6 separate regions of the Homo sapiens genome follow, and all the other regions are reported to be linked to region 1. The links are microRNA targets in miRTarBase. Many come from high-throughput screens and were not tested one by one. Region 1 holds a microRNA gene; each other region holds the end of a gene's coding sequence. Distances are between the middles of the regions.

What was found. The annotated mature microRNA hsa-miR-6793-3p reads UCCCCAACCCCUGCCCGCAG and lies in region 1 at 1,321-1,340, opposite strand. An mRNA with a match to its seed (bases 2 to 7 or 8) in the 3' UTR can be bound and repressed. Matches are read on the target gene's strand: a 7mer-m8 pairs with bases 2 to 8, a 7mer-A1 pairs with bases 2 to 7 and ends in A, and an 8mer does both.
Region 2: the mRNA of TRIM56 is a reported target of hsa-miR-6793-3p. The part of its 3' UTR that is shown has no 7-base or 8-base seed match.
Region 3: the mRNA of ZNF793 is a reported target of hsa-miR-6793-3p. The part of its 3' UTR that is shown has no 7-base or 8-base seed match.
Region 4: the mRNA of KSR2 is a reported target of hsa-miR-6793-3p. Seed matches in the 3' UTR shown: 8mer at 859-866, 7mer-m8 at 1,739-1,745 and 8mer at 1,924-1,931.
Region 5: the mRNA of THBS2 is a reported target of hsa-miR-6793-3p. The part of its 3' UTR that is shown has no 7-base or 8-base seed match.
Region 6: the mRNA of DKK3 is a reported target of hsa-miR-6793-3p. Seed matches in the 3' UTR shown: 7mer-A1 at 896-902.

Annotation. Positions count from the first base shown.
Region 1 is chr19:10,826,275-10,830,355 of GRCh38, reverse strand. MIR6793 (microRNA 6793) reads right to left here and starts at 1,383; the gene lies at 1,321-1,383. DNM2 (dynamin 2) reads right to left here. Exons shown (of 21, transcript NM_001005361.3): 19 at 1,088-1,320; 20 at 1-229.
Region 2 is chr7:101,088,911-101,092,997 of GRCh38, reverse strand. TRIM56 (tripartite motif containing 56) reads right to left here. Exons shown (of 3, transcript NM_030961.3): 3 at 1-4,087. The coding sequence ends at 3,418. Among named protein-coding and RNA genes, the nearest start is that of TRIM56, 5.5 kb to the right of the region's middle.
Region 3 is chr19:37,537,641-37,541,727 of GRCh38, reverse strand. ZNF793 (zinc finger protein 793) reads right to left here. Exons shown (of 8, transcript NM_001013659.3): 8 at 1-4,087. The coding sequence ends at 3,849. All of the region lies in intron 1 of LOC124904708, which reads left to right. Among named protein-coding and RNA genes, the nearest start is that of ZNF571-AS1, 9.3 kb to the left of the region's middle.
Region 4 is chr12:117,463,779-117,467,865 of GRCh38, reverse strand. It overlaps KSR2 (kinase suppressor of ras 2), which reads left to right. Exons shown (of 20, transcript NM_173598.6): 20 at 661-4,087. The coding sequence ends at 667. Among named protein-coding and RNA genes, the nearest start is that of NOS1, 100 kb to the right of the region's middle.
Region 5 is chr6:169,214,577-169,218,663 of GRCh38, forward strand. THBS2 (thrombospondin 2) reads right to left here. Exons shown (of 22, transcript NM_003247.5): 22 at 1,209-3,253. The coding sequence ends at 3,246. The region is part of intron 2 of THBS2-AS1 (THBS2 antisense RNA 1); the gene reads left to right. Among named protein-coding and RNA genes, the nearest start is that of THBS2-AS1, 3.4 kb to the left of the region's middle.
Region 6 is chr11:11,960,908-11,964,994 of GRCh38, reverse strand. DKK3 (dickkopf Wnt signaling pathway inhibitor 3) reads left to right here. Exons shown (of 7, transcript NM_001018057.2): 7 at 309-1,959. The coding sequence ends at 531. It overlaps USP47 (ubiquitin specific peptidase 47), which reads right to left. Exons shown (of 28, transcript NM_001282659.2): 28 at 3,108-4,087. Among named protein-coding and RNA genes, the nearest start is that of DKK3, 46 kb to the left of the region's middle.

The DNA of each region.
Region 1 (4,081 bases):
TGGGGGGATCCGAACTGGCCGAGATGGGATCTGAGGCGGGGCTGGGAAGAGGTCACTGTTGGCAAACACGCTCTGGGGTCCAGGCCGGGATGGGATTGGGGGCGCCGAGAAGGAGGCTGCTGCCCCCACGGGAACAGGAATCAGGGGGGGCCCTGGAGTGGGGCCCCTCACTGCTGGGGGCCGGCCAGGGGGGTGTATGCTGGACACCGGTCGGCGCTGTGGAGTGGGGCTGTGAGGAAGGAGAGGGTGTGAGCTACAGATACAGATGGAGTAGGAGCCCCCGCCATGCCACTGTGGCTGCCAGAACCTGAGGTGGGGGCTGGCTATGGGGACAGCGCAGGCGCAGTGGGATCCTCCCACCCCAACCTGAGCGCCAGTCCCACCTTCCCTTGCCCTCGGCCCCCTCAGGCACTTCCCACTCACAGGGCCCCCTCAGGCCTTGGGCCTGGGATCCACCCTCACAGCCAAAGACACTTCCAGAGTCCTCCAGATCAAGCCCTAATATCTCTAGGGGCCGTGGAACCTGCAAGCCCTGTCCAGACATCCAGATTCCCTCCTGGGCCTCAGTCCCTGCCACCTGCAGGCCTGGGTGCGATATCCTCCCCTTAAGGAACTCCATGGCTCCCCCAGGGCTCTGCAAGGCAGCCCCCTCTGAGGTTCCCTGCCCGACGGCCTCAATGGACAACTCAGGGGCGGCAGCAGCTCTGGCCACGCCTTGCGTTTGCCCCTCCAGAGCCTCCCATCTGCCCTTCTCTGTGCTCCAGGAGGCTCATCTCTCTCCTGTGGCTGCTGCCCCTCCAGCCTCTTACCCCAGCTTCCATTTGGGCTGTGCCAATGGAAGGCACCAGCAGAGGGCAGGCGGGGTATTTATTCACAGGGTCCTGCCCTAGAGCTGTAGGGCTGGCTCGCCCCCATACCCCTTCTCTCCCTCCTCCGGCCTCAGCAGGGCAGCAGCTCCCACAGTGCCCAGCCCTGGGTGCCACCCTTGGGCTGTGTCCTGTTTCCTGCCAGGACCCTGCAGGACACACAGGGAGGGCAGGAACCTGCAGGCCGAATGCTTGAGGGTAGGGGAACCAGGCTTCCGGACCTGTGGCTGCTGGCGCTCTGGAGCCAGGTGTCATCGACAGGCGGGGGTACAGGCGTGGACACAGTGCTGGTGCTGATGTCACCGATGATGTTGAGCGCCTCCTTGAGGGCATGGTACATGCGCAGCATGTCGTCCCGCCGCTGTGCCTGGTCAGCCGACTCCTCCATGAGGCTGCTCTGGTCTGCCGAGGAGTATAGGTAGGCCAGCAGCTCGTGGTGGATGAAGGCCTTCGTCTGCGGGCAGGGGTTGGGGAGGGTCAGGCTTGTGTATCACCCCAACCCAGAACCCACAGTGACTGCTGGAAAAACATCTCTCACAGGGCGGGGCCACCCCCAGACTTTTTTGAAAAAGAGTCTTGCTCTGTCACCCAGGCTGGAGTACAGTGGCTCAATTTCAGCTCACTGCAACCTCCGCCTCCCGGGTTCAAGTAATTATCCTGCCTCAGCCTCCCAAGTAGCTAGGACGACAGGCACGTTGACACCATGCTTGGCTAAGTTTTGTAATTTTTTTAGAGATAGGGTTCCACCATGTGGCCCAGGCTGGTTATGAGATTCTTATTCAACTTATTTCTAGTATCTTGCCTCTTCCATTGATGTCTTTTCTCCTGTTTTAGCTTATTTATTTATTTCCTTAACCTTGGCAGAATAATCCTGTTATATCTTTTTTGTTTTTGCTTTTTTTTTTTTGAGACAGTCTCACTGTCGCCCAGGTTGGAGTGCAGTGGTGCAATCTCAGCTCACTGCAACCTCCGCCTCCCGGGTTTATGCCATTCTCCTGCCTCAGTCTCCCAAGTAGCTGGGACTACAGGCGCCTGCCACCACGCCCAGCTTATTTTTTGTATTTTTAGTAGAGACAGGGTTTCACCCTGTTAGCCAGGATGGTCTCGATCTCCTGACCTTATGATCCGCCTGCCTCAGCCTCCCAAAGTGCTGGGATTACAGGCGTGAGCCACCGCGCCCAGCCAATCCTGTTATATCTTTATTTTTTTGTGACAGAGTCTCACTCTGTCACCCAGGCTGCAGTGCAATCTTGGCTCACTGCAACCTGCGTCTCCTGGGTCCAAGCAATTCTTGTGCCTCAACCTCCCAAGTAGCTGGGACTACAGGCGTGCCCCCCAACCCCCGGCTAATTTTTGTATTTTTAGCAGAGATGGGGTTTCACCATATTGGCCAGGCTGGTCTTTAACTCCTGACCTCAGGTGATCCACCCGCCTTGGCCTCCCAAAGTGCTGGGATTACAGGCGTGAGTGAGCCACTGCGCCCGGCTAATCCTGTTACATCTTCCACCTGGCTTCTGTTCAAACACTACTAGTTTCTGTTCATGAATTTTATACATTGTCCTTTCTGGAACCTCCTACTGGATACAGAAGTTTTTCAGTTACTTTTTTTTTTCTTTTTTTTTGAGACAGAGTCTCCCTCTGTCACCAGGCTGGAGTACAGTGGCATGATCTCCGCTCATTGCAAACTCCACCTCCTAGGTTCAAGTGATTCTCCTGCCTCAGCCTCCAGAGTAGCTGGGACTACAGACGCGTGCCACCACGCCCAGCTAATTTTTGTATTTTTAGTAGAGGGGGGTTTCAGCATGTTGGCCAGGATGGTCTCAGTCTCTTGACCTCGTGATGTGCCCGCCTCAGCCTCCCAAAGTGCTGGGATTACAGGCATGAGCCACCACACCTGGCCGTCACAACTTTTTTTTTTTTTAGATAGGGTCTCACTCCTATCACTCAGGCTGGAATGCAGTGGAGCGATCTTTGCTCACCGCAGCCTCGATCTCCTGGGCTCAAGTGATCTTCCTGCCTCAGCTTCCCGAGTAGCTGGGCCGACAGATTTATTATTTTCTTAAATAATAAAATATTTTTATTTTATAAGAGTCTATTAAAAATGGATAATTATGTCCCATCTTTGGCTGCTATAAAACATCATGGAAAACAATAAGCATGTATAAGCTCACTTTGCACGTGGGCAATTGTCTCTCTTAGAGAAGTTCCTAAAAGTAAACTTGCAGGGTCAAAGGATATATGCATTTTAAATTTCATAGCAGAAGAACCGTATATGTCTCCGATCCTATCGGTATATGAGGAAACATACCAGGACACCATGAAACTGTGAACACTGATCACTACTGAGAATGGGAGCAACAGGGTGGGAGGGCATGGCACGTGGGAGGTGTGTGTGTGTTTTAAATAGGGATGGGGTCTCACTATGTTGTCCAGGCTGGTCTTGAACTCCTGGGATCGAGTGATCCTCCTGCCAAGCCTCCCAAAGTGCTGGGAGTACAGATGTGAGCCACCATGCCCAGCCACACCCTGTGTGGGAGTTTTACTTAGATCCGCAGGTTTCTGTGGTTGACATTCATATACAAAACCCAAGACACTTTTTTTTTGAAAGAGGTTCCTGCTCCATCACCCAGGCTGGAGAGCAGTGGCGTAATCATGGCTCACTGCAGCCTCAACCTCCTGGGCTCAAGTGATGCTCTTACCTCGGTCTTCTGAGTAGCTGGGACTACAGGCATTTGCCACCACGCCCAGCTAATTTTTAAATTTTTTGTAGAGACTGGGGTATGGCTATGTTGCCCAGGCTGGTCTTCAGCTCCTGGGCTCAAGTGATCCTCCCTCCTCAGCCTCCCAAAGTGCTGGGATTACAGGCATGAGCCACTGCTCCGGCCCCAAAGCTGGTTTATAAAGCTTCCTGAGTGGCTAGTGCCATGCCAAAGGCCTGATACACAAGTGCCCTGAGCCCTCTAGCAGCCTGAGCTGGAGATACTATCAGTACAGCTGCATTTCACTGAAGAGGAGCCCAGAGCCCTGAGAGTCTCCAGGGAACCCGGGGCCAGGCGGGTGACGCCCATGAGGAAGAGGCTGGGCCCCAGATCATTAGGACACAGCGGCTGCCCAACACAACCCAAGGGTATGGTTGCAACCAGGGTAAACGTGGGTTTGAATCCCACTTCCCACTTTCCTAAGGAACTTGGGGCAGGTTACTTGATCTCTCTGGC
Region 2 (4,087 bases), not on the chromosome of region 1:
TTTTTCTTAGTACAGAACAAAATGAAGTCTCCCATGTCTACTTCTTTCTACACAGACACGGCAACAATCTGATTTCTCTATCTTTTCCCCACCTTTCCCCCTTTTCTATTCCACAAAACCGCCATCGTCATCATGGCCCGTTCTCAATGAGCTGTTGGGTACACCTCCCAGACGGGGTGGTGGCCGGGCAGAGGGGCTCCTCACCTCCCAGACGGGGCGGCCGGGCAGAGGCGACCCCCCACCTCCCGGACGGGACAGCGGCCGGGCGGAGGCGCCCCCCACCTCGCTCCCGGGCGGGGCGGCTGGCCGGGCGGGGACTGATCCCCCACCTCCCTCCCGGAAGGCGCGGCTGGCCGGGCGGGGGCTGACCCCCCACCTCCCTCCCGGACGGCGCGGCTGGCCGGGAGGGGGCTGACCCCCCACCTCCCTCCCGGACGGGGCGGCTGCCGGGCGGAGGGGCTCCTCACTTCTCAGACGGGGCGGCTGCCAGGCGGAGGGGCTCCTCACTTCTCAGACGGGGCGGCTGGGCAGAGACGCTCCTCACCTCCCAGACTGGGTCGCGGCCGGGCAGAGGCGCTCCTCACATCCCAGACGGGGCGGCGGGGCTGAGGTGCTCCCCACATCTCAGATGATGGGCAGCCGGGCAGAGACACTCCTCACTTCCTAGATGGGATGGCGGCCAGGAAGAGGCGCTCCTCACTTCCCAGACTGGGCAGCCGGGCAGAGGGGCTCCTCACATCCCAGACAATGGGCGGCCAGGCAGAGACACTCCGCACTTCCCAGAGGGGGTGGCGGCCGGGCAGAGGCTGTAATCTCGGCACTTTGGGAGGCCAAGGCGGGCGGCTGGGAGGTGGAGGTTGTAGCTAGCCGAGATCACGACACTGCACTCCAGCCTGGGCAACATTGAGCACCGAGTGAACGAGACTCCGTCTGCAATCCCGGCACCTCCGGAGGCCGAGGCTGGCGGATCACTCGCGGTTAGGAGCTGGAGACCAGCCCGGCCAACACAGTGAAACCCCGTCTCCACCAAAAAAATACGAAAACCAGTCAGGCGTGGCGGCGCGCGCCTGCAATCGCAGGCACTCGGCAGGCTGAGGCAGGAGAATCAGGCAGGGAGGTTGCAGTGAGCCGAGATGGCAGCAGTACAGTCCAGCTTCGGCTCGGCATCAGAGGGAGACCGTGACCATGGAAAGAGAGGCAGAGGGAGACCGTGGGGAGAGGGAGAGGGAGAGGGACCTTGGTTTTCTTTCTTTTCTTTTTCTTTTTTTTTGAGATGGAGTTTCATTCTTGTTACCCAGGCTGGAGTGCAATGGTGCGATCTGAGCTCACTGCAACTTCCACCTCCTGGGTTCAAATGATTCTCCTGCCTCAGCCTCCCAAGTAGCTGGGATTACAGACGCCCGCTCCCACGCCTAGCTAATTTTTGTATTTTTAGTAGAGATGGGGTTTCTCCATGTTGGCCAGGCTGGTCTCGAACTCCTGACCTTGAGTGATCCACCCACCCCAGCCTCCCAGAGTGCTGGGATTACAGGCTTGAGTCACCGTGCCTGGCGCTTGGTTTTCTTATAATCTTCATTATTCTTTGCTGTGCCTACCTTTGTAATTTGTAGATAATGGAATGTGTCCACCCGGACTTTGATGATGTCCTGCATTGTTTCAATAAACAAGAAATGGTTTTCCCAGAAAGGGATTTTCTTTTCCCTCTACCTATGCCCTGCACATTCCATCTGGACTTGTCCAAAATCCCTCTGGTTCCCACGAATGCCCCACTGTCCACAGTCCCCACATTAAGACCCCCTTCTGCCATCTCTCAACAGCCCCTGGCTAAAAACATTCTCCAAGCCTACTTGCCCCCTCAATTCTACCACTGCCACCACTTATGAAAAGGTCCGGTGGTCACAGCCCACCTCCGACGGGTTCCTCCCTTCTGGTTTGACACCTCTATCCGTCGCAGCCCCATTGCACCTTCTAGGTTTTCTTGGCACCTCCAAGTTCCACTTGGCCTGCAGGGTTTAGCTGTTTCCCCAGCAATAGTGGCCCACAGAGGACAACCTTCCTTCACCCCCTAGTTCAGCCGAGTGAAGGCCAACATATCTCAAAAGGAATTTTGCTGGAAAATGAAGAGAAGGCAACACATAGACCCTGGGAAATGGAAAGACACCGAAGCAGAAGCGTTGGAGCCTAGAGATTTTTCTATCCTATGTACCTCTTCCCTCAGACTGGCTCCGTGGCTGCGTGGAGGGCTCCCCTGCTCTGACACTCATAACTTGGTATTTATTTATTTATTTATTTATTTATTTATTTATTTATTTTAACACTTGATCTTAGCTGAGAAGTGATGGATAACCTGCTTTTTCTGTTGTTTCTGTTTTTTTTTTTTTTTTTTTTTTTCGAGATGGGGTCTGGAATGCAGTGGTGCGATCATAGCTCACTGCAGACTCAAACTCCTCGGCTCAAGGGATCCTCCCACCTCAGCCTCCTGAGTAGCTACGTTGAAAGGCATATGCTACTACACGCAGCTAATTTTTAATCTTTTGTAGAGATGGGGTCTCGCTATGTTGCCCAGGCTGGTCTCAAACTCCTGGCCTCAAGCAATCCTCCTGCCACAGACTCCCAAAGTGCCGGGATTATAGGCATGAGCCACTGCGCCTGGCAGAGCCTGGTTTTTTTTTAATACTTAATCTTAGCCAAAAGGCTGAGAAGCGATGGAGAATGTGGATTTTTGGACGTGAATTCTGTTGGGTTTGGTTTTCCAGTAGCCTATTCTCTTCGCAGCCTTTGAACCTAACACCTCTTTGGCCCCAGCTGCTGTCTGCACTTGCAGACCCTCCTGCAAGCTCACCCTGTACTACCGCCGGGGGATGCCGTGATCAAGGAGCATCCTGCCTGTGGCTGGCAGAAGAGGCCATTCACTGCCCATTCGAAATCTCAGGCCTCCTCTGACTCTGTAGGACCCTGTGCCAGTCCAAGGGGGGCCGGGGTCTCAGCTCTGTTCCACAGTGCACACGCCTGACCCACCCTGGGCCCTTCTTGGCCCCAAGACTCTCCCTCGGCTACTCTATCAGGAATGGTTTTGAAGAATGCAAAGCAGGACAGGCTCACAAACCTCAGAAACCTAAACTATATAGCAGCGGCGGTGGTGGCAGCAGCCACCCACAAAAAGCAAGAGGCAGGTGAACTCCCAGCATCCCCCTCCACCCACCTGCCTCCTCTGCTTCTGAGAGTTAAGGTCACGCCACCACCTTGGTCCCTATTCTCACACACTAGAAGACGGGTTAGCAGTTTGGCACTCCATGTTGAAAAGTTGCCAACCCCTGCCCTTCAGGAAAATGTCCTCGGCCTCCACCTCCCACGGACAGCTCTGCCTCCTTCCTGCCCTCTCCCTCCCCACTCCCTCTCACCCTAGTCCTAGCCCCTTTAACTGTCCGGAGAACGGACCCGAAAGATGTGGATGGTCCCGTTACTGAGGGACACGACCAGGTACCTGCCATCCACCATGGTGGTAACCCGGGGCTTTTCCAGGCCGTGGTAGGCTGTCAGGAAGTCTCCAAGGAGGGACCCCTTCGGGTCCAGGATCACCACCTTGTTGACTTCTCGAAGGGTCAGAAAGATGTAGCCCTTCTTATCCACAGACACGGAGCCCGGCTGGCAGCCATGCAGGCCTGGCCCCTTGTACTCCCCAACCACCTGGCCCAGCCCATCACAGATTACCACACTATTCTGCTGCCAGTCCGACCCCACGAAATGCCCCTGGGGGCTGGTGGTCAGAAACACCAGCGCCCGCAGGCCCCGGCTGGCCTTGCCTCCAGGAATGAACCGGGTGGCCAGGCTGCCTTCCATATTGTACACCTCCACGTGGCCCGCCACGCTGACAGCCACGCGGTCCCCGCTAGGCAGTGCCGCCACCGCGTGGCTGGCCTGGGAGAGGCTCAGGGCCCTGCGCCACTGCACTTCGCCGTTGGGGTTGATGAGATAGAGCCGTGCGCTAGCGGAGAAGGCCACCGCGCTCTGCAGGGCGGCCACGCTGCAAGGGGAGCAGCCCTCAGGGACCGGCACGGTGCCCTTGTAGTCGCCGTTGAGGGAGAAG
Region 3 (4,087 bases), 27 Mb from region 1:
TACGTAGTCAAATGTTTGTTTCCTTTTTTTTTTCTTTTTCTTTTTTTCTGAGATGGAGTCTTGCTCTGTTGCCCAGGCTGGAGTGCAGTGGTGCAATCTCAGCTCACTTCAACCCCTGCCTTCCAGGTTCAAGTGATTCTCCTGCCTCAGCCTCCCAAGTAGCTGGGACTACAGGCATGTGCCACCACACCCAGCTAATTTTTGTATTTTTAGTGGAGATGGGGTTTCACCATGTTGACCAGACTAGTCTTGAACTCCTAACCTCAGGTGATCCTCCTGCCTCAGCCTCCCAAAGTGTTGGGATTACAGGCATGAGCCACTGCACCCAGCCTTCAACTGCTTATTTCTAAATAGCTTCTGAGTGTCCTGTGTTGGTAAAGTTAATATCTCCCAACTCCTAGATTGTACACATAGGCTCCTTTGATTTTCTTTTAAGAATTCTGTTGCTTTAAAATTTTACGTCTTAAAGCCACCCAGAATTTATTTTTGTGCTGTTAATCCAAATTTTCTTCCTTTAAGATTAAAAGGTTCTGTTCCAGAATTCTTTTTAAGTAAACTACTCTTTTCCCCTGTGGTTTCAGATTTCACCTTTTTCACATATGAAAAAGTTCATATATATCGAAGTCTATTTCTGAATTTTCTACTGTGTTCTAATGATGTATTTACCTGTTCCTTTGCCAATACAATATTAATTTCATTAGAATGGCTTCATGTTATCTTCTGGTATCTAGCATGGCATTTTAAAAATTTTTAATTATTATAGATATATAATTGTTGTATATATTTATTGGGTACATGTGATGTTTTTATACATGGTATGATTTTTTTCATATATTTTTTTCAATGATTGTCAAAAAATCATTGAGATTTAGTGTAATTCCAAAAGAAGTACATATAAATTATGTTTTCTTGTCAGTATGGAGAACAGCTCTTGATTTTGGTACCCTGTCTTCTTAGAAAAGTTAACTCAAAAAATAGTCTTTTCATTTATTGGTGTACAACCATATCATCAGTAAAAATGGATAGTTTTACCTTTTCTGCTGTTTATACCAATTCATTTCTTTTTATTGCCTTCACTGGAATCTCTAAGCCAATATTGAATTCCTGATTTTAAAAAATGGCTTTGGCATAATATATGCTTTGGGGTTTGGGTTAAAAAAAATTTTTTTTAAGAAAAACCGCTTTAAGTGGTTCCCATCTATTACAATGTAAATTAACACATTCTATGAAATGCCTTCTCAGTATCTGTTGAGAGTTCATATGATTCTTCTCCTTTAAACTGTTAATTTGATTGATGCATTTCCTATTAACTGAACTGGTTTGGCATTCTTGGGATGACTCTTACTATGTCACTCTTTGGGTATATGGCTGAATTCTATTTGCTAGTATTTTAACTATAATTTTTGTTTCTATATTCATGAGTAAGACTGGTCTGAAGTTTTCTTTTTTTTTTTTTTTTTTTGACGGAGTTTCGCTCTTGTCACCCAGGCTGGATGGCACGATCTTGGCTCACCGCAACCTCTACCTCCTGGGTACAAGCAATTCTCCTGCCTCATGCCTCAACCTCCCAAGTAGCTGGGACTACAGGTGTGTGCCACCACACCCGGCTAATTTTTGTATTTTTAGTAGAGATGGGGTTTCACCATCTCGAACTTCTGACCTCATGATCCACCTGCCTCGGCCTCCCAAAGTGTTGGGATTACAGGCGTGAGCCACCGCACCCAGCAGAAGTTTTCTTTTTTCAACTATCTGTATTTGATTTTGGTGTTAAAATTTATTCTGACTTAATAAAATAAATGAGTACAGTTCATGGATTGTATTACATCCATATAATAAATAACACTGGTATTACTCTTTCTTTAAAAGATAGAACTAAGCATGAACTCTTCTGAGCCTGGAGCATTTTCCCATTATAGATCTTTAATAGCTTTTTTGAGTTTTTCAATGTTAACTATCCTACCAAGTTTTCTACTTCTTATTGCAGTTTTCATAACTTAAGTTTATTAGAAAAGCATCCACCTCCTCTTTTTAAAAAATATGTTGATTAGAGTTGTATGAGGTATCTTTTTATCACTTAAAAAATCATATTGATATCTGTGGTTATGTCTCCTTTCTCATTCTGGATCAGGCAGTCTTACATGGAGGGAAATCTTGAAAAATGTAGATTCCACATGGCCATTTATTTTCTAATATGGATGACATAGCAACTCAGGGAAGCAGACTTCTTTCCAAACATTGAAATAATTAAAACCTTGGGATTTAGTGTCTAGGACACTTGCAAGGAAATTTATATGAAAAAAATGAATATTCTTGAATTAATTTGCAGAGGGATAGAGAGAAAAGAAATTCTCCTTCAGTGGTCTACGCATGAAACATTTCTGAGTTATACAACCTGTATATAGAATAGTGTATCTAGAATAGTGTAGCAATGCTACTAATTTGCTACAAGATATTTTAAGCAAGACTAAGAAAATATGAACAGTGTACTGTACACCAGGGTGACACTACATTTTGTCAAATAGTTTACAGTGTTTCATTTACCCAGTATCAGGTTCTTAAACTATTCCTTAGCTTGCATTTTTAATATAAATAACTACATTTTAGTAAAATTTTTGGCCAAATTATCCAAATACATTTAAAAACACTGCTTTATTATTTCTGCAGAGGACAGTAACAACCTCTATAGCCATTTACATGTATTACAAAAAGGTGGAAAAATGTAGCTGGTATAATAAAGTTCTTTTAACAATAGTGGGCCATGTTGTTGTTATTTTTTTGTATTGTTAAGACATCAAAAGACAATGATGATATTTAAAGTGGAAAAGTTTTCTGAATGGCATTCTATATGTTGTGTGACATGTGTCTGATATTCACATTTTATGTTAATTTCACATTTACAACTCCAAAATACAAATAATGCTGATTGTATGGCTCACTGTGGAATATACCAGAGTATGCCTTTAAGTCTCTTCACAGATATTTTGTATTCTGCTGTTATTCCATTTAATACATTTTTAAACGTTTACATGCCAGGGTGTCCATGCTTATGTTTGAGAAAGTATTTTCTAGAAAAGTTTGTATCACAATTAGATCATGATTTCCATTATGATACAACACTGTCGGTTGGGCGCGTTGGCTCATGCCTGTAATCCCAACACTTTGGGAGGCCAAGGGCGGGGGGTTGGGGGGTATCACGAGGTCAGGAGTTCGAGACCAGCCTAGCCAAAGAGACCAGCCTGACCAACATGGTGAAACCCCATCTCTACTAAAAATACAAAAATTAGCCAGGCGTGGTGGCAGGTGCCTGTAATCCCAGCTACTTGGGAGGCTGAGGCAGGAGAACTGCTTGAACCTGGGAGGCTGAGGTTACAGTGAGCCGAGATAGTGCCATTGCACTCCAGCCTGGGAAACAGAGAATACAACTCAAAATAAATAAATAAATAAAATAAAAACACACTGTTCAAATTCATTAAAATGATAAGATTTCTCCTAAGGATAAATTCCCTACATACCGGCCAGGCGCGGTGGCTCACGCCTGTAATCCCAGCACTTTGGGAGGACAAGGCGGGCAGATCACAAGGTCAGGAGATCGAGACCATCCTGGCTAACACGGTGAAACCCCGTCTCTACTAAAAATACAAAAAAAAAATTAGCCGGGCATGGTGGTGGGCACCTGTAGTCCCAGCTACTCGGGAGGCTGAGGCAGGAGAATGGCGTGAACCCGGGAGGCAGAGCTTGCAGTAAGCCGAGATCGCGCCACTGCACTCCAGCCTGGGTGACAAAGTGAGATTCCAACTCAAAAAAAAAAAAAAAAAATTCCCTACATACCATGAAACCAGATATTTTGCTCAAGTATTTCCCACAATTATTAAGTTTTCATTCCTGTAGGCATTCTTCCGAGCATGAATTTTCTGATGTCTGCTGAGGTTTGGCTTCTGGTAGAAAGCTTTCCCACATTCATTGCACCCATAGGGCTTCTCTCCTGTGTGAGTTCTCCAATGTTTATTGAGGCATGACTTCTGGCTGAAGGATTTTCCACATTCTCTGCAACGATACGGTCTTTCTCCTGTGTGCATTTTTCGATGTA
Region 4 (4,087 bases), not on the chromosome of region 1:
CATTCCCTCTTCCATTCATTCATTTTTTTTTTTTATTCAGCCTATGTGTACTGAACATCTTTTATGTGCTAGACACTGTTCTAAGAGTGAGAATACAGCAGTCAACAAAATAAATGAGTTCCTTTTGCTGCAGTGGACATCAAAGTCTGCTCATAGCAGGAGGCTGCAGTGTGGATCCCAGTCCCACCCCCTCTTCCTGCCTCTCTAGCTGTTACAGAGCTTTATCCCAGCCCCATACACTAGATGACCATTCCTAGTCCATGCCCAAGTGGGAAAAGTTCTGGGTTCAAATCCTGACCCTGCTGCTTCCTGGCAGTGTGCCCTTTGGCAAAACACTTAACCTCCCGAAGCCTCAGTGTTTTCATCTGTGAAATTGTATGATTCTGTCGTAGAAGTTCGTCTCTGATTATTTTCATCTTTGAAAATATTAGTAGCCTATATTGCAGGCTCATCTCAGGCTTAAATGGGATCAGGTGTGTGGCAGAGCCCAGCATATAGTAAGAACTCAGTTAACAGAAATCTCTTCCATGTCTTCTTGCAGAAGACAGGAACAGTTCATCTCAAGCCACCTGGCCCACTGAGAGGGTGTCATTCACAACGGATGACATCATCATGTCCTTGTGACCTCTCACCACTCTCTCCCTTCTCTCCCCACTCCAGGCTGTGACCTTTGGACATCGGGACGGCGCCCAGCTGCCTGGGCTCCCGTCACCTCTCCCTCCCTACTCTGTCCTCTGCCAGCTCAGGAGGCCAGAGACTCAGCATCAGAGGGTACCAACCCCGACCGACCTGGGAGCACTGGACAACTGCTCGGCGGCCTCCCTGCACCTCAGACTTGAGCCCTTTTCCTCGGGCAGGGTTGGGGACCCCCGAGCTAGGACTGAACCGGACCAGCCAGGGTGATGCGTTATTGATCAGTGCGGCCCAGGGGACAGCACTAATGAGAGCACTGCAGGCTGCACGTGGTGCCTTTGGGCTATGGGACTAGGACAGGAGACCCCACGTGGGGGGGCTCACAGACGGGGCTATGTGTGTGTGTGTCTGTGTGTTTGACGTTGTTCACTCTTGTTTCCCCTTGACAAGCAAGAGCCAGACTGTCCCAATGACGGGGCACTCCTCAGTTCTGTCTGTATGTGGTAGGTTCCAGCTGTACCATCTGGGAAGCTAAGAGGAGGGTACAGAGCCGAGTGGCAGCTTAGTCAAGGCTACTGAGCCAAGATCGAGCAGGGAAGGTCGGGAGTGGCTAAGCTCGTTCCTTTGGAAATATCTGTTTTCAGACACCCCAACCCGAGCCTGTCATGGCGTGTGGCACCTTTGCATAGAGCTCTGAAGTACAGTAGGAAAGTTAGAACGTCTTTTGAGTTCTGGGTCTCTCTGGGGGACCTATTCCCCCATTTCTGCTGTTTTCTCCTGTTCTCTGAGAGTAGCATCCCTTTTCACCTCACTGCCCGCACCTCCTTGCCATTTGGAAAGCCAAGATGACTTCTGAGGGGCTCCTTAGAGCTCACCGTCATTCAGGGCACCCCCTGAAGTCTGGTCCCTGAGAATCAGGGCTCTGGGCAGGGAGTTCTAGGACATTCCTTTTCTTCCCTCTTCTCTGCTACTCACACCAGTGAAGCTTATTCCCCCACCAAGGTGGATGCGGGTTCTTGGGGTACGTCCATGTTGGGTTATGTGGCTGTACCTATGATAACACGTTTGCAAAAGATTTCCCTGCCTGTCACCCTTGAGGAGTCCTGTTGGGGGAGCACAAAGGGAGGATGTTTGTTACACTTCTGCGTTCTTTGCTCTAGCCTGGTGCGGGGTCCTCAAGTAGCTTCCCCATCGGAAGCCTGTGTCCCTCACCTGTGTGTGTTCCCTCAGTGCCCCACCTTCCCTCCCTCCTCTTGATCCCAACCTGGGCCGGCGACTCTTCCTGACCATGTTGGGGAAGCCCCTGGTGTTCTGTATCTGTAGGAAGGATGCCGAGAGCAGGCTGGGCATGCAGATGGGAGAGGAGAACCTCTGGGTCATTTGCCCATGTTTTCAAAGCCCTGACCCCCTGCATGTGACCTGATACAAAAGGGAAATCTGTCCCCAAGCAGAGCAATAGCAGGATTATCTGGGCAGTGAACAGGAAGCCCAGGGCGGCCACAGCCCCTCTGTGTTTCCTGGGTACTACCTGGGCCTTAGTTTTCTTGTAGCTACTATCTATCCAGGCATCTCCCTCCTAGAGGGCCAGAGAGAGGAACTGGAACTTCAAAAACCCTACCTGATCTTACTTTCAAAATCCAAATAGACCTATGAGGATCTCTTCCCCACCTTGGGTGACTCCCAGACTGGTTCATGCTCTGGGGGCCAAACCTGCTTCCAAACCGGGAAGAATGGTGAGATCAGTCATGCTTCCCAGGAGCCTGGCTACAGGAAACCCCTGTGTTTCCCAAAGGGCCCTCCTGAATTGCCTTTCCAACACTCCCAGCTTACTGGGACTAGAGGACTAAAGACCCCGGCTTGGGCTGCTCCTAAGCAGACACTGCTCTTCTGGGGACATCTATGGCTCTTGGCTTGACGACGTGTGTGTGTCTTGGAGGCATTTTATATATGTTTGCCTGAGCCCCAGCCACTCTGGGGTTGCTGGGGATGGCTCTTGTCAATGGACACCTCCCCATCCCAACACAACACTCTGTGTCCCAGCCCTGGGCCTGGACTTGCACCTGTCTTGGCTCTGCCCAGCAGCCTACTGAGTGCCTGAAACCCAACCACTCACTTCTCTTCCATCACACCAGGACTTCTTGGGTCCACAGGCTCCAGTCCTTGTCATGTTCCCTTGTGCCAAGAGACAGGATATGAGGAAGGGAAGAGGCAGCCAGGGTCTACTACCCTGCAGCTGAAATGTCCACAAGAACTGGCACCTTCTCACTCTTGCCTCTCTTGTTTCCAGAATTAACTAAAATGTCCAACCACAGCCTTTGGCAAGGCCTAGCATGATCTCCAACAGCTGATTTTTCCATTCATTCATGAGCACCAGTTTGGGATTAAGGACAGGGCCTGAGTGATCCAGGGGAAAACCCAGCCCTTTGTGGAACAGGGTGCCTTGGGTCCATCCCTGAATCTGAGTCACTTGCTCTTGACTTCTCGATCTTTCCCCACTTCACTACTCTGTCCCCACCTGCATTGGTCTCTGCTGCAGCCAGGCCAGGATCCTGGCCTTCAGTGCCTTCCTGACGCCCCTACCCTGTCCCCTCTACACCGCCCTGACTTGTTGAGAAACCAGCTTTAATTTGCACACATTTAAATCCAGGAAGAACCAAACCGCTGCTTTCCCTGCTGGCTTCCATCTTTATTCGCTGATGAGGTTTTGGGAGGAGGTTATATTCATCTTACGCAGGGAGGAAAAAAAAAGAGGAAAGAGGCTGTATATTTTTACATCATAATTACCAGCCTCACCTGCAACTCATTCTATACAATGACACGACCAAGATTTGTGTGTTTGCCCTTGTCCCATCACAGCTGCACACAGGTGCCCTGTACACATAAGTCACTGACTCAGCAGCGAGTTGTTCCAGTCAGTCTTGCTTTTAGCAAACCGTCATATACATGGGCTTCCCGAGGGGACCAGTCCACAGGGTGAAGATTCACCAGGAAGCCTTGGCTTTGCAGAGAGAAACATCTCAGCTTTCTTTAAAGGGCATGTGGATTTGCACATAAATTTCACCCAACTCTTCCAGGATACAGATTATTCATAAAACCAAGGAGCTTCCTTCTTGGCCCCCTGTGGGAGGACGTGCCCCTTGTGTCCCCATCCCCAGAGCCAAGCTGGAAACCCAAAGTCATTGCTTAGATCCATTTTGTCCTGGTATTCCTTTTACTGATCAAAGAGAAAATTTTCATCTTGCCATGGACCCCCCCATCCTCACCCCATCCACTTGTCTCCACAGCTACCTTGGATTGTCAGTCAATAGAAGCCCTTGACTGATATTGACCACTAGACTTTTGTATCCAGGGAACCTAGTTCTTCCCTTTTTCTCACCTCCCATGCCATATACACACATCATGCCCCTCCCCACAAACACACGAAACCAGCCTTATCTCACCTTCCACCATTCCC
Region 5 (4,087 bases), not on the chromosome of region 1:
AACCTCAACTTTTCGATAAATGACAGCAAAACCTGAATGCAGGAGAAATGTATCTCATTTTAATGCCTGACTTCTAAGCATCCTTATTCAACATATTATATGTATTTTTTGTTTCATGAGTAAAATGTACATTGAGCTTCCTCCAGTAGCTGTCCATAGACCAGCCACTATCACTGCCATCATTATTTTGTTTCTAAACTTTTCTTTTTACACATGTAGGTCTAGCTTTTTCCTCCATATTGATGAACTAAAACTCACTCATTTCACAACTCAAAGCCAGGGCCTTCAGTTCACAGCCCGTTGCCTCAGACGGCCTTTCCTATATCTTATTGCTTCACTGTCTGACTCACTCCAGCGTGTTTCAGCCAAGTATACTTGTTTTTATTCATCTTGCTCTCTTTTCCTCCCTCCCCCAACTCCCCCTCTTTCCCTCTGTCTCTTTGTCTCTTTCTCTCTCCCCCATCCCTCCCTCTCTTCCCCTTTCTCTCTGGATGCCCTCTCTCCCTCTCTCCCTCCCTCTCTTCCCCTTTCTCTCTGGATGCCCTCTCTCCCTCTCTCCCTCCCTCTCTTCCCCTTTCTCTCTGGATGCCCTCTCTCCCTCTCTCCCTGTTTTTCTTCTCTGTGTCTGCCTGCATAATATTCAGAAATCCCAACAAGAGCAGCTGGAGCTGCTAAAGAAACCCCAGCGTTCTGTGCTGCTGCCATTGCCTCCTCCAACTGGTGAGCCCGATCGGCCCATTTTTAGGCAGTGCTGTGGTTGGAAATGGGCCCTTCCTCTGGGGTCCGCTACTTCCCTCCACCTGACTCAGAAGAATGAGTCAAGAGGGAAGAACAGCTCGTATTAGGGAGAGGGTCCCGTGTGCTGTTGCCTTTTTCGGAATCATTTCAATCATGTTTGCCAAATTCCCTACGAAGTTCTGTTCCCTCGTTTGACAATGAGCAGAGGCAGGAGAGATGAATTGCTAAATGGTTGTATCCCACACCGTGCTGGGAGGCTCAGCAGAACAGAGACCTGTGTCAAGCAGGGCTTCCTTCTCCACCAGGCCCTTCAGCCTGCATTTTAACCTGTGACTTGCGAGGAGATAGCCCGTGATCACACCACAGGCCTACTTACATGACAGGAAGCAAAATGCCAATTCCTTCTACCCCTTTCCCCCACCCCGGTAGAAACCCTGCTAGTTCTTTTTAAAAAAGGGAGAGAGATCATGTATAGAAAACCTTTTTTACAATTTATTTCCTGTTGTTAATCTTTAAAAATGAGGTTCTAGCTAAGTGCAGGGTTTCAGTGGTGAAATTTTGACCATGTGAACACATAAATAAATATTTACAGTCTTTGGCAAAACACATGACGTTTCATCAACCTATACGATAAATTTGTTTAGAAAAACATAAATAATTTACAAAAAATATGGTACATTCTAAATACTCACATCATCGTCACTCCCACACCATTGTACGGTTGACCCCACAACACAGAAACAGAAAACCTGCACGCTGTTGACAGTCGCTACATTTAATGAAGTATCCCAACGCTTCGTTGGTCTCGGGAATACAGCTCCACACGCAAAAAAGTAAAAAGTGCAGCAAAACAACAACACAACGATCAACCTCAAAGGAAACAACAAAATTAATTTTATCAAAATGCAATGTGTACATTAAGACTAAAGTTATGGATTGTTCCTGTTTGGCATAGAAATGTGATGACTATTAACAGAAAGGGGAAAAAGATTTGCCCCCTATCCATCATCAGACAGACAGACTTCTCTTACTAAACCCCTTATGTGGAGTGGGATGAGTGACTATTTCCTGCAGAAAGATCATGCAACTTAAAGCAAAAAAACAAACCAACCAACAAAAAAAACAAAAACAAAAACAAACTTGTGCATATTACACATGACTGATTATTGGGTGTGCCTGGCAAGACTAAATGCTGATTCTTTTCAGCGTTTGAATTAAAAGAATTCCATATACAGCAGATAGATAACAGTAACAAATATTGAACTAAAATCGCTGGCAACATTATATATTTAAGGTTCCATCATAAACTCCTCATTATTCTCTATGTATTCTGTTACAGCTTCTAGCATGCTTCATCGTGACAACCTAATATTATCAAGCCTCATATTTTCACAGGATTATATACTTATTAGATGTTTGTTTCTAGAAATTATACTACATATGTGTTACTAGGCATATTTAAAATAAGTTACTGGTAAATGGAGTTGCATTCTATAGTCACTTAATAAATATTAACAAAATATTTATAACTGGAACCTTAATGAAATGTATCATCAAATCAGGTAAAAGCAACTTGTCCGCAGTTACCAAAGCCTAGATACGCGTTAGATGCGCCTTTTCCGGCCTGTGCGTCTGCTCTGGTTCCTCTCAGGCAGCAAAGCTGGGGAAGGAAGCTCAGGCAGGAGCCTCCCCGACGCCACAGCGGCACAAGCAGCAGCTAAAGCACCGCACTTTGCTCTGCTAACCTTTTACTTAAATGAGGTTTTGCCAAATCCACATCTGGAACCGCGTCACACCCATTTGCAAGGATGTTTGTTCTTTGATGAAACTGCATCTCTACTGCACATGAGGGCTTTCATTGTAGGACAAGAGGAGAGTTCGTTTATTTTTGTAACTGTTTTACATGTTCCGATTAGTTAATCGGTAGCTTATGTCATTTGCTATGCCTGTTGTCTTCTAATCTCTCCTTACTAAAACATTACTTCAAATTTGAATTGACCCTTGTTTATAATTTATTTAATGGGATTTGTGTGTCATTGTAGAGCAACTCTAATTCAAGAATAGTGACAACTTTAAGCACCAAAAGTAGTTCAGCAATATTTTTCATGCTTAATTTATCATAATGGCTTATGCACAGTATTCCCTTCAACTCCATATACACATAAATACAATAAGTAATTACATTTTATATGTAAACGTCATTCTTTTTAAACAAACAAGAAAAAGCAATGTAATGGCATGCCCAATTTTCACTCCACATAAAGTCTCATATATCACCAAACTGGTTTCCTCTAGTGGGTTAGATGTTCATCTCTGAGTTCCATTGATATTTATCCTCTGAAGGCACTTGGGTTTGGGGTTGCTGGCAGGAGGTGAAGAACCATCAGAGTTAAGGTCAAGGGACAGGAGGTGCTGCTAGAGAGAGAAGCCACAAGGACCACAATGAACTGAGGTGTCTAGGGACCATGGCATGCACAGGGCATTGCCGGAAATGCAGCAAATCTTGTTTAAATATCTACAAAAAGAAAAAAAAAAGCAATAAACAATTAGCATAACTGGGCCATGGGTAGTGATTTATTTTGTTTTACCTAGAACCAGAAATATAATTACTTTAATTAAAGATGAGATCTATCATATGGATGGATGGATGGATGGATGAAATGGATGGGTGGATGGATGAGATGGGTGGGTGGATGGATGAGATGGGTCGGTGGGTGGGTGGATGAGATGGATGGATGGATGGATGGATGAAATGGATGGGTGGGTGGATGAAATGGGTGGGTGGATGGATGGGTGGATGGATGGGGTGGGTGGGTGGATGAGATGGATGGATGGATGGATGAAATGAGTGGGTGGATGGATGGATGAGTGGGTTGGTGGATGAGATGAATGGGTGGATGGATGATGAGATGGTTGGGTGGCTGGATGAGATGGATGGATGGGTGGATGGATGGATGAAATGGATTGGTGGATGGATGAAATGGGTGGGTGGATGGATGGATGAGTGGGTTGGTAGATGAGATGAATGGGTGGATGAGATGAATTGATGGATGGATGGATGAATGAGATAGGTGGGTTGGTGGAGATGGATGGGTGGGTGGATGGATGAGATGGATGAGTGGGTGGGTGGGTGGCTGAGATGGATGGATGGGATAGATGAGTGGGGGTGGATGAAATGGATGGGTGGATGGATGGATGGATGAGATGGATGGGTGGGTGGGTGGATGGACTAGATGGATAGGTGGATGGGGCTGGGTGGATGGATGGATGAGATGGGTGGGTGTGTGGGTGGGTGGATGGATGAATGGATGGATGGATGAGATGGATGGTTGGGTGAATGGATGAGATG
Region 6 (4,087 bases), not on the chromosome of region 1:
GGGCTGTGGTGCTGCTACATAGCACTCAGGTCCTGCCCCTGGGCTGCGGGGCCTGAGAGTCACAGGAGGTCAGGCCTGCGCTGGAGGAGGGGAAGCTGCCCCCCACCAGCACATTCTCCCAAAGTGAGCCTCCCTCAGCCATCATTTTAAGATAGATGTTGACGGGAAGTGAAGTGTCTCTGTTGAAGAGACAGGAGAGGAGGGGGCATGAAGGTGAGGCTGGGAGCCCCACAGAGTCAGGGCGCCTTAGCTTTCGGCCTGGGCAGGCTCCCACGTTTAGAGCCTGGCTTTGTCCCATCTCTCCCCAGCCACAGCCTGGTGTATGTGTGCAAGCCGACCTTCGTGGGGAGCCGTGACCAAGATGGGGAGATCCTGCTGCCCAGAGAGGTCCCCGATGAGTATGAAGTTGGCAGCTTCATGGAGGAGGTGCGCCAGGAGCTGGAGGACCTGGAGAGGAGCCTGACTGAAGAGATGGCGCTGAGGGAGCCTGCGGCTGCCGCCGCTGCACTGCTGGGAGGGGAAGAGATTTAGATCTGGACCAGGCTGTGGGTAGATGTGCAATAGAAATAGCTAATTTATTTCCCCAGGTGTGTGCTTTAGGCGTGGGCTGACCAGGCTTCTTCCTACATCTTCTTCCCAGTAAGTTTCCCCTCTGGCTTGACAGCATGAGGTGTTGTGCATTTGTTCAGCTCCCCCAGGCTGTTCTCCAGGCTTCACAGTCTGGTGCTTGGGAGAGTCAGGCAGGGTTAAACTGCAGGAGCAGTTTGCCACCCCTGTCCAGATTATTGGCTGCTTTGCCTCTACCAGTTGGCAGACAGCCGTTTGTTCTACATGGCTTTGATAATTGTTTGAGGGGAGGAGATGGAAACAATGTGGAGTCTCCCTCTGATTGGTTTTGGGGAAATGTGGAGAAGAGTGCCCTGCTTTGCAAACATCAACCTGGCAAAAATGCAACAAATGAATTTTCCACGCAGTTCTTTCCATGGGCATAGGTAAGCTGTGCCTTCAGCTGTTGCAGATGAAATGTTCTGTTCACCCTGCATTACATGTGTTTATTCATCCAGCAGTGTTGCTCAGCTCCTACCTCTGTGCCAGGGCAGCATTTTCATATCCAAGATCAATTCCCTCTCTCAGCACAGCCTGGGGAGGGGGTCATTGTTCTCCTCGTCCATCAGGGATCTCAGAGGCTCAGAGACTGCAAGCTGCTTGCCCAAGTCACACAGCTAGTGAAGACCAGAGCAGTTTCATCTGGTTGTGACTCTAAGCTCAGTGCTCTCTCCACTACCCCACACCAGCCTTGGTGCCACCAAAAGTGCTCCCCAAAAGGAAGGAGAATGGGATTTTTCTTTTGAGGCATGCACATCTGGAATTAAGGTCAAACTAATTCTCACATCCCTCTAAAAGTAAACTACTGTTAGGAACAGCAGTGTTCTCACAGTGTGGGGCAGCCGTCCTTCTAATGAAGACAATGATATTGACACTGTCCCTCTTTGGCAGTTGCATTAGTAACTTTGAAAGGTATATGACTGAGCGTAGCATACAGGTTAACCTGCAGAAACAGTACTTAGGTAATTGTAGGGCGAGGATTATAAATGAAATTTGCAAAATCACTTAGCAGCAACTGAAGACAATTATCAACCACGTGGAGAAAATCAAACCGAGCAGGGCTGTGTGAAACATGGTTGTAATATGCGACTGCGAACACTGAACTCTACGCCACTCCACAAATGATGTTTTCAGGTGTCATGGACTGTTGCCACCATGTATTCATCCAGAGTTCTTAAAGTTTAAAGTTGCACATGATTGTATAAGCATGCTTTCTTTGAGTTTTAAATTATGTATAAACATAAGTTGCATTTAGAAATCAAGCATAAATCACTTCAACTGCTCTTCTGTAGTTCTTGGATTTCTTTTCCCTTTTGACTTTGAATAAATGTAAAATCCTTTCAGCCAGAAAAAGTAAAATAGAAACAACCTGTATTAAAAATCTTCCATAGAAGCAAATTTGCCACCCAACTGAAGCACACCTCTTTCAGCATCAAAATATTTTAGAAATCTTAACTATTTTTGGATGGGAATTTGTCTTAAAGAGTGTAAATGCTTCACGGCCTTCTGAAAGGACAAATGGAATATGTATGACTCTTTTTTTAGGGGAGCCTTCTTTAATCAAATGCAGTTCTGGGCCATAAGACAGTAAGATCCTCAAGGACCATAATATTAGAGCTACTATATTGAAGTCAGCTGCGTGGCAAGTGCCAGATTAGGCAGTCTACCTATATTCATTCATTTAATCTTCACTGAACTCCATGAGCATTTTCTTCATTTCACAGATGAACAAATGGAGGTGCAAAGAGATTGACAGAGTAGAAGTCAGACAAAAACAGCATCTAGTACAGTATGTCCAGGTTATAGTGATTATTTTAAGATCAAATAGGGAGCTGTTTTCTATTCAATGTCAGAAACCATCAGGACCACCCTACATTCTGGTTACTCAACAGATATCTACTGAGAGCCTCCTCAGAATCAGGTGCTGTGGTACGCTTTGGGGTGCCAAGCTGACCCAGATAGGGTCCCTACCTTGAAGGCATCCCAGTCTAATGAGGGAGACACAGCCAGAGCAAGCAATGACAAAACAAAGACAGTCAACCCGATGTGGGAACAGAGGTGTTACGGAAGCCTCAGTGGAGCACTTGGGGAGAGCTGGCATGGGAACTGGCTCTTGAAGATGATAGGAGTTTATCAGGAAGCCAGAGGGCACAGGAAAGGGCTTTCTGGGCCATGGGCAGAGGGAGGGAGGCACAAGGGTCAGGTGCCATGTAGGGGAAACTGCAAGTCATTTGCAGTGGCTGGAAGGCAAGGAAAGCTTGAGGAAGCATTTAGAGAAGAGGCTAAAAATTATGTCATCCAAAAAATGATTGAAAACATTGTGGTAAATGAGATAAAACTAGGTCCCCCATAGTTGTATATGTAGATATAGTAGGCTGCTCCATTTTGTCATGATAGCCACAAACTTGTAAGAACACGAGAGGCTTTGCAAAATACTTAGCTGAAGCCAGCATCTGAGTAGCATCTGAGTGTCTCCTTTACTCAGTCCTGAGTGAAATGTGGGAGGGGCTGGGTGGAGGTGGTGCTTGAATACCTTGCTGCTGCTCTCTCCCAAAGCCAGAGTTCCTGCCAAGCCATGGCAGATGCCGTCAGGTAAACTGCTCAACAGCTGTTCTCAGTCCCTCCAGCAGCTAGGGCTGGCCCCATGACCCAGGAAATGTAAGGGGAGGGCTCCCAGAGTTTCTGGAATTTTTTCCCAATTGACAAAAGGAGAGTGGCAAACAAGAATGGAGCTCCTGCCCTCCATCCACTTCCCCTGCCTTTGAGTATGGTGCTCAGGAAGCGACATTTGGCTCTGGGGCAGCCATCTGGTGATCATGTGATCAACAGGGCTGCATTCCTCTGGAGGCTCTGGGGAGAGTCCATTTCCTTGCTGTTTTTTAGCCTCTATAGGTCACTGGCATTCCTTGGCTCATGGGCCCCTTCATCTTCAAATCCTGCAATGACAGTTCTGTCCTTCTCAGGTGCCAGCTCTCTGGCTTTCTACAGGTGGGAAAGGTTCTCCACTTCTGGGGACCCATGTGATCAAATTGCGCCCACCTAGATAATCCAGAATAATCTTCCCACGTCAAGGTCCTTAACCTTAATTGCATCTGCAAAATCTCTTTTGCCCTGTCAGGTAAATAATCACAATCTTCCCACGTCAAGGTCCTTAACCTTAATTGCATCTGCAAAATCTCTTTTGCCCTGTCAGGTAAATAATCACAGGATACAGGGTTTAGGATGTGGCCCTACCACAGAAAGAGTCTTTGAGTCCTTGACATTGAGGAGGAAACCAATCCTGTTCTCCACCATCTCTGGACACCTTAAGTAAACCACCGATATTATTATTGATAAAGCTGGTGTTAGCTTTTCTGTTATTTGAAGCCAAAAAGCATTTCTGACACAGGAGCTATTTGCATGATGAACCATAGCCTGCAGGAGAACAAAGCCCAACTGGTTCTCTGGGCCTGTGGGGAGGGAGGATGAGGTTGAAGAGGGA